2 linked regions of the Homo sapiens genome follow. The protein of the gene in region 1 interacts with the protein of each later gene in a pairwise test. Each region holds a gene or a part of one and is shown in the gene's direction. Other genes may lie near its edges.

Evidence for each region.
Region 2: the proteins of IQUB (region 1) and PRR23D2 interact in a two-hybrid assay, tested with the Homo sapiens proteins (one large-scale study listed by BioGRID).

The regions. Positions count from the first base shown.
Region 1 is NC_000007.14:123,524,518-123,528,345, reverse strand, and holds part of IQUB (IQ motif and ubiquitin-like domain-containing protein), read left to right. Parts: exon of another isoform or gene 1-101; intron 102-3,828. UniProt on the Homo sapiens protein: Adapter protein that anchors the radial spoke 1 (RS1) complex to the A microtubule of outer doublet microtubules in axonemes. The triple radial spokes (RS1, RS2 and RS3) are required to modulate beating of the sperm flagellum.
Region 2 is NC_000008.11:7,779,022-7,782,949, reverse strand, and holds the start of PRR23D2 (proline-rich protein 23D2), read left to right. Parts: upstream 1-1,536; 5' UTR 1,537-1,713; coding exon 1,714-1,790; intron 1,791-2,553; coding exon 2,554-2,615; intron 2,616-2,860; coding exon 2,861-2,928; intron 2,929-3,156; coding exon 3,157-3,789; 3' UTR 3,790-3,928.

The DNA.
Region 1 (3,828 bases):
TTTCGGGGAGGAGTCAAGATGTCCAAATAGGAATAGCTCTGGTCAACAGCTCCCAGCGTGAGCGACGCAGAAGACGGGTGATTTCTGCATTTCCATCTGAGGTACAGGGTTCATCTCACTAGGGAGTGCCAGACAGTGGGCGCAGGTCAGTGGGTGCGTGCACCGTGCGCGAGCCGAAGCAGGGCGAGGCATTGCCTCACTTGGGAAGCGCAAGGGGTCAGGGAGTTCCCTTTCCTAGTCAAAGAAAGTGGTGACAGACGGCACCTGGAAAATCGGGTCACTCCCACCCGAATACTGCGCTTTTCCGACAGGCTTAAAAAACGGCGGACCAGGAGATTATATCCCCCACCCGGCTCGGAGGGTCCTACGCCCACGGAGTCTCGCTAATTGCTAGCACAGCAGTCTGAGATCAAACTGCAAGGCGGCAGCGAGGCTGGGGGAGGGGCGCCCGCCATTGCTCAGGCTTGCTTAGGTAAACAAAGCAGCTGGGAAGCTCCAACTGGGTGGAGCCCACCACAGCTCAAGGAGGCCTGCCTGCCTCTGTAGGCTCCACCTCTGGGGGCAGGGCACAGACAAACAAAAAGACAGCAGTAAACTCTGCAGACTTAAATGTCCCTGTCTGACAGCTTTGAAGAGAGCAGTGGTTCTCCCAGCACGCAGCTGGAGATCTGAGAACGGGCAGACTGCCTCCTCAAGTGGGTCCCTGGCCCCTGACCCCCGAGCAGCCTAACTGGGAGGCACCCCCCAGCAGGGGCAGACTGACACCTCACACGGCCGGGTGCTCCAACAGACCTGCAGCCGAGGGTCCTGTCTGTTTGAAGGAAAACTAACAAACAGAAAGGACATCCACACCAAAAACCCATCTGTACATCACCATCATCAAAGACCAAAAGTAGATAAAACCACAAAGATGGGGAAAAAACAGAGCAGAAAAACTGGAAACTCTAAAAAGCAGAGTGCCTCTCCTCCTCCAGAGGAACGCAGTTCCTCACCAGCAACAGAACAAAGCTGGATGGAGAATGACTTTGACGAGCTGAGAGAAGAAGGCTTCAGACGATCAAATTACTCCGAGCTACAGGAGGAAATTCAAACCAAAGGCAAAGAAGTTGAAAACTTTGAAAAAAATTTGGAAGAATGTATAACTACAATAACCAATAAAGAAAAGTGCTTAAAGGAGCTGATGGAGCTGAAAACCAAGGCTCGAGAACTACGTGAAGAATGCAGAAGCCTCAGGAGCCGATGTGATCAACTGGAAGGAAGGGTATCAGCGATGGAAGATGAAATGAATGAAATGAAGGCTACAAGCCAGAAGAAAGTGGAGGCCAATATTCAACATTCTTAAAGAAAAGAATTTTCAACCCAGAATTTCATATCCAGCCAAACTAAGCTTCATAAGTGAAGGAGAAATAAAATACTTTACAGACAAGCAAATGCTGAGAGATTTTGTCACCACCAGGCCTGCCCTAAAAGAGCGCCTGAAGAAGCGCTAAACGTGGAAAGGAACAACTGGTACCAGCCGCTGCAAAATCACGCCAAAATGTAAAGACCATCGAGACTAGGAAGAAACTGCATCAACTAATGAGCAAAATAACCAGCTAACATCATAATGACAGGATCAAATTCACACATAACAATATTAACTTTAAATGTAAATGGACTAAATGCTCCAATTAAAAGACACAGACTGGCAAATTGGATAAAGAGTCAAGACCCATCAGTGTGCTGTATTCAGGAAACCCATCTCACGTGCAGAGACACACATAGGCTCAAAATAAAAGGATGGAGGAAGATCTACCAAGCAAATGGAAAACAAAAAAAGGCAGGGGTTGCAATCCTAGTCTCTGATAAAACAGACCTTAAACCAACAAAGATCAAAAGATACAAAGAAGGCCATTACTTAATGGTAAAGGGATCAATTCAACAAGAAGAGCTAACCTAAATATATATGCACCCAATACAGGAGCACCCAGATTCATAAAGCAAGTCCTGAGTGACCTACAAAGAGACTTAGACTCCCACACATTAATAATGGGAGACTTTAACACTCCACTGTCAACATTAGACAGATCAACGAGACAGAAAGTCAACAAAGATACCCAGGAATTGAACTCAGCTCTGCACCAAGTGGACTTAATAGACATCTACAGAACTCTACACCCCAAATCAACAGAATATACATTTTTTTCAGCACCACACCACACCTATTCCAAAATTGACCACATACTTGGAAGTAAAGCTCTCCTCAGCAAATGTAAAAGAACAGAAATTATAACAAACTATCTCTCAGACCACAGTGCAATCAAACTAGAACTCAGGATTAAGAATCTCACTCAAAACCGCTTAACTACATGGAAACTGAACAACATGCTCCTGAATGACTACTGGGTACATAACAAAATGAAGGCAGAAATAAAGATGTTCTTTGAAACCAACGAGAACAAAGACACAACATACCAGCATCTCTGGGATGCATTCAAAGCAGTGTGTAGAGGGAAATTTATAGCACTAAATGCCCACAAGAGAAAGCAGGAAAGATCCAAAATTGACATCCTAACATCACAATTAAAAGAACTAGAAAAGCAAGAGCAAACACTTTCAAAAGCTAGCAGAAGGCAAGAAATAACTAAAATCAGAGCAGAAATGAAGGAAACAGAGACACAAAAAACCCTTCAAAAAATTAATGAATCCAGGAGCTGGTTTTTTGAAAGGATGAACAAAATTGATAGACCGCTAGCAAGACGAATAAAGAAAAAAAGAGAGAAGAATCAAATAGACGCAATAAAAAATGATAAAGGGGATATCACCACCTATCCCACAGAAATACAAACTACCATCAGAGAATACTACAAACACCTCTACGCAAATAAACTAGAAAATCTAGAAGAAATGGATAAATTCCTGGACACATACACTCTCCCAAGACTAAACCAGGAAGAAGTTGAACCTCTGAATAGACCAATAACAGGAGCTGAAATTGTGGCAATAATCAATAGCTTACCAACCAAAAAGAGTCCAGGACCAGATGGATTCACAGCCGAATTCTACCAGAGGTACAAGGAGGAAATGGTACCATTCCTTCTGAAACTATTCCGATCAATAGAAAAAGAGGGAATCCTCCCTAACTCATTTTATGAGGCCAGCATCATCCTGATACCAAAGCTGGGCAGAGACACAACCAAAAAAGAGAATTTTAGACCAATATCCTTGATGAACATTGATGCAAAAATCTTCAATAAAATACTGGCAAACCGAATCCAGCAGCACATGAAAAAGCTTATCCAACATGATCAAGTGGGCTTCATCCCTGGGATACAAGCCTGGTTCAATATACGCAAATCAATAAATGTAATCCAGCATATAAACAGAACCAAAGACAAAAACCACATGATTATCTCAATAGATGCAGAAAAGGCCTTTGACAAAATTCAACAACACTTCATGCTAAAAACTCTCAATAAATTAGGTATTGATGGGACGTATCTGAAAATAATAAGAGCTATCTATGACAAACCCACAGCCAATATCATACTGAATGGGCCAAAACTGGAAGCATTCCCTTTGAAAACTGGCACAAGACAGGGATGCCCTCTCTCACCACTCCTATTCAACATAGTGTTGGAAGTTCTGGCCAGGGCAATTAGGCAGGAGAAGGAAATAAAGGCTATTCAATTAGGAAAAGAGGAAGTCAAATTGTCCCTGTTTGCAGACGACATGATTGTATATCTAGAAAACCCCATTGTCTCAGCCCAAACTCTCCTTAAGCTGATAAGCAATTTCAGCAAAGTCTCAGGATACAAAATCAATGTACAAAAATCACAAGCATTCTTA
Region 2 (3,928 bases), on another chromosome or scaffold:
ATGTAGGCAATTAATCCAATTTTATAACTGCAGCTGATATTCAGCTAATTACCTGCTGTTCTCCTCAGAAATTATCAAAATCCCCAAAGCAGAGAGTTCTCTGGATAAAGGCACTAATGTTCCCCTTGGAGGCTTTTAAGACATTGGCAAAATTAAAGGAATCTTCCTGTTTTCCTTTTATTCATCTAAATGATTTATCTAACTGGAGAAGAAAGCTTCAGTGCAAAAGGCATCTGCTAATTAGATTCAATTTTTTTTTAACATTTAAGGGAAACAGGGTCTATACTTCACCTAATAAAACTGATGAAATTATCAGCTAAATGCAAAGAGAATCCACAAACAAATTTATACAAGTTCTAGAGAGAGGATGAAGCCCTGAGCTCAGGGGCCTGTTAGAGATGGCACGCTCAGTAATGGTGCACCCTCACAGATTTTCCTTCTAGTTCAGTTCTAGTGATTACTGGATTACTGTTTTCCCCCAATACCATCTATTATTCTTTATACTGTCAAATAATTTTTAATCTTAAAATGACTAATTCTGAGTTCAGGCATATGGTGTCTGGCCACCTGCAAGAAGTTTAGGTGACTTTGCCAATAAGAATGATGGATTTGTAATTAATAAGTAATGTTGAAAGCAAAACTTGCATTACAATTCTGAAATTAGTCCAGCGGGGATACAGGCAAGAAATAAATTAACAGACAGATTAATACACAGTGATATATTAGAAATTAAGTAAAGGTTCTTTTTGTATTTTCCCCAGCTTGTCTTATAGTATTCGCTTCTTCTGTTTGGATAACTTTCCCCAGGAGATTCATTTTAAAACTTAATTCACTTAAAATAACGTATTTTTTTTTATTTAAAAATACTGTCAGCCCTCCACATCCATAGGTTCCATATTCATGGATCCAACTAATCTTGAATAGAAAATATTCACAAAAGATTTGCACAAGTTTCTTCAGAGAAACTTTAAATTTTCCATGCATCACATTCTTTTTGAGTTCACATAAATGACGTGACGTCTGGGCATTGCATTAAGTATTGTAAGTAATCTAGAGATCATTTAAATTATATAAATTAATGTGATTATGTTATATTCAAATTCTACGCCGTTTTATACAAGGGACTTGAGTATATACAAATTGTGGCATATTTAAAGTTTCCTAGACCCAATCCTTTATGTTTACTAAGAAACGACGTACACATGAACTTTACAGAAAATAACTGTCCTACCAAATTAATGAACAGACTACAATAGAAAGTAAATATTGCTAGTTTAAAATACTGTTATTTTATGTCACAATTATATGGTGAATCAGAGTAGAGATCTTGAATTAATTTTGATTGAATTAGGCTAATTCTGACTGGGTCACACTCATATTGACTGAGTTTTGATAAAACCACTCCCATGCTGGCCCTTCATGTTGTTTAATCAGCACCACTAGCCAATCACATTCATCCATTTTGACAAATCCCATGGCTCCACCTCTTATAAGACCCTTGGAGGATTTCCCCAAGAGCTCACTCTACCAAAGCACCATTTGACCGGTCCCAGGCCAGGACACACTCTTCCATGCTCTGGCTGTGCTGTGCTAGAGGCTGATAATTTTTCTCCAGGTAGAGTAAAAGATCAAGGCACGAACTATATAGATTTACAGAAAATAGGCCAAAGATTGAGATTTTTTTGACACAAGCAAGTCCAGAGAACTTTTACCATGTATGGTTACCGGCGCTTAAGAAGCCCCAGAGATTCCCAGACAGAACCGCAGAATGACAATGAAGGAGAGACCAGGTATGTTGGAGTATGTGGCTACTTTGGGTTGCCAGGAGGTTGACATGTGACTGTGTGTGACTGTATGTGTGTGTGTGTGTGTGAATGTATGCTAAAGGGCCAAACTAGGGCAGAGAAGACACCCTGGCCTGCCATGACATTGAATGTTATAAATTTAGAACACATTGGGGAGACATGAGACCCACAGTGGAGGCCACAGGATGCAGCCAGCATGGGGGGTTTCTGCAGCCTGTCAGGGGGCTCATCTCATGTTTCTTCCCATTGTTAATCTCTGTCCTCTGGGTAAACAGAAGTTGCCTCTTGTGTGGAGACAGGTAAACTGTGGGCATGATCTAAATTTTTTCCTTGTGCTCACTAGAAAATGGAACATTTCATGTCATTTATCACTCCATTCACACTGTAACTGCATAGACACAGGGGTTAGATACCCGGAAAATCAGCATCTTCTCCTAAAGTCCTCGGGCCAAATTTGATGTCCCTCCTTCTCATGTGGATGAGCTCCTGAAAAAGCAAACTGTTTCCTGTGATCGCCATGTCTTATCACACACATGCACCGATAGGAAAAGCCTCTAGAAAAGGAGAGGGTGGGATATGAGTGTTAGGACTTTCTGGATGCAGGTAGGATTTGGAGCTGAACACAAGTGCATGTGATTTTGGGCCACAGCAGCAATGTGTGCCGGATGACTAATGAAGTTTGGGGCTTGTGAGAATTGGACTTTGTGTCACTATGTGGAAGATTGATGGGTCCCTTTCTGTCCTGCAGTTTGGCTACCACACAAATGAATCCACCCAAACGTCGCCAAGTGGAGCAGGGTCCCAGTACAGGTAAGGCACTTTCCCTAATATTTTTTAAGATTCCCATGCCTGGAAGTCAGTGTCATGTCTCATGATACCATAAATGGAGAGGGTGCTTTCTGCAGGGTGAGTGGAAAGTCGTGCTTGACTGTTGGGGGCTGGTGTCCTGAGGCTGGCCAGTGCTGGGTGGTGGATTTCTGAAGGTCACATTCTGAAATGCAAGAGACTCTTGCTGGAAGAGAGCCTTAACCTCCCTCACTGTGGTCTCTCTGCAGGTGCAAAAAAACCCTCAATTTCAGGAGCTCCACACCTGAATTCATACCAGTCCCTGGAACTTCCCCAGGTAAGTTCCTGTGTCCTTGCATAGCAAAGATTGGACAGTGCTGCACAATCTTCAGGTTCAAGGGACATCCAGTGGATGTATATTTAGGTGGATTGGCATGAGCACCAATTCTGGGAGGGAGTTTGTATTTTAAAGTTGTAAAGGGTGAAGCTCCTGGCATCTCCCTCCCCATGAGCATCATTTGCAGCCTTTTTGGAGGGCAGAATACTGAGGACTGTCTTTCCACAGAATCAGCAGGATTCTGGCACTGAGGAGCTCATGATAGTCCTGGAACAAGGGACAGAAGTGAGGTTGAGCCTGGAAGAGGTCATCCTCATCTTGGCCCCAGAGACAGTGCTGCAGCTGACCCTGGAGAACACAGTCCTTGTGATTGTCCCTGAGCATGTCCTGAGGTCAGAAGATGGCCTGCAGTCCCCTGTGCAGATCCAGTACATCATACCTTCCGTTGATGACTTCAGCTTGGAGTTCCATGCTCAAGATGGAGACATCTCAGACATGAGAAGAGAGAATGTGCCTTTTTCACCTGCAGAAGAAGGGAAGGCAGCACCCCTGTATCAGCAGCCCTTGATGATACCCCAAGCAAACCACATGGCTGGGATCAGCCCTTCTTTCCTAGTAACCCCATTGTGCATTCCACGCTGTCGGGCAGCCTTCCCCCAATGCTACCCTCTACCACCCACACCTAGTCCTGTGGGACGCCCTAGACCAGCCGACTCCAGTTTCAGCCTGCATGGTATGGAGCTCTTGTGCACCTCCTCCCTCAGACCTATGCCCCCTTCACCAAGTCCTGGTCCCCAGGTCTATCACAGGGTTCACCATAGGCCTCCCAGCAGGGCACGGAGATGTCTCTTTAGGAAGTGATTTAACCCAAGAGCCACCCCCTGCATTGATAGGTCAGAGATTGTCCAGATCCTTAGTCAGTGCATTCTCTGAAATGTGGAGAGAAAGTAATTTGACCACTTGCTTGCCCTTTGCTGTTCCCCATCATCAACCACTGTCT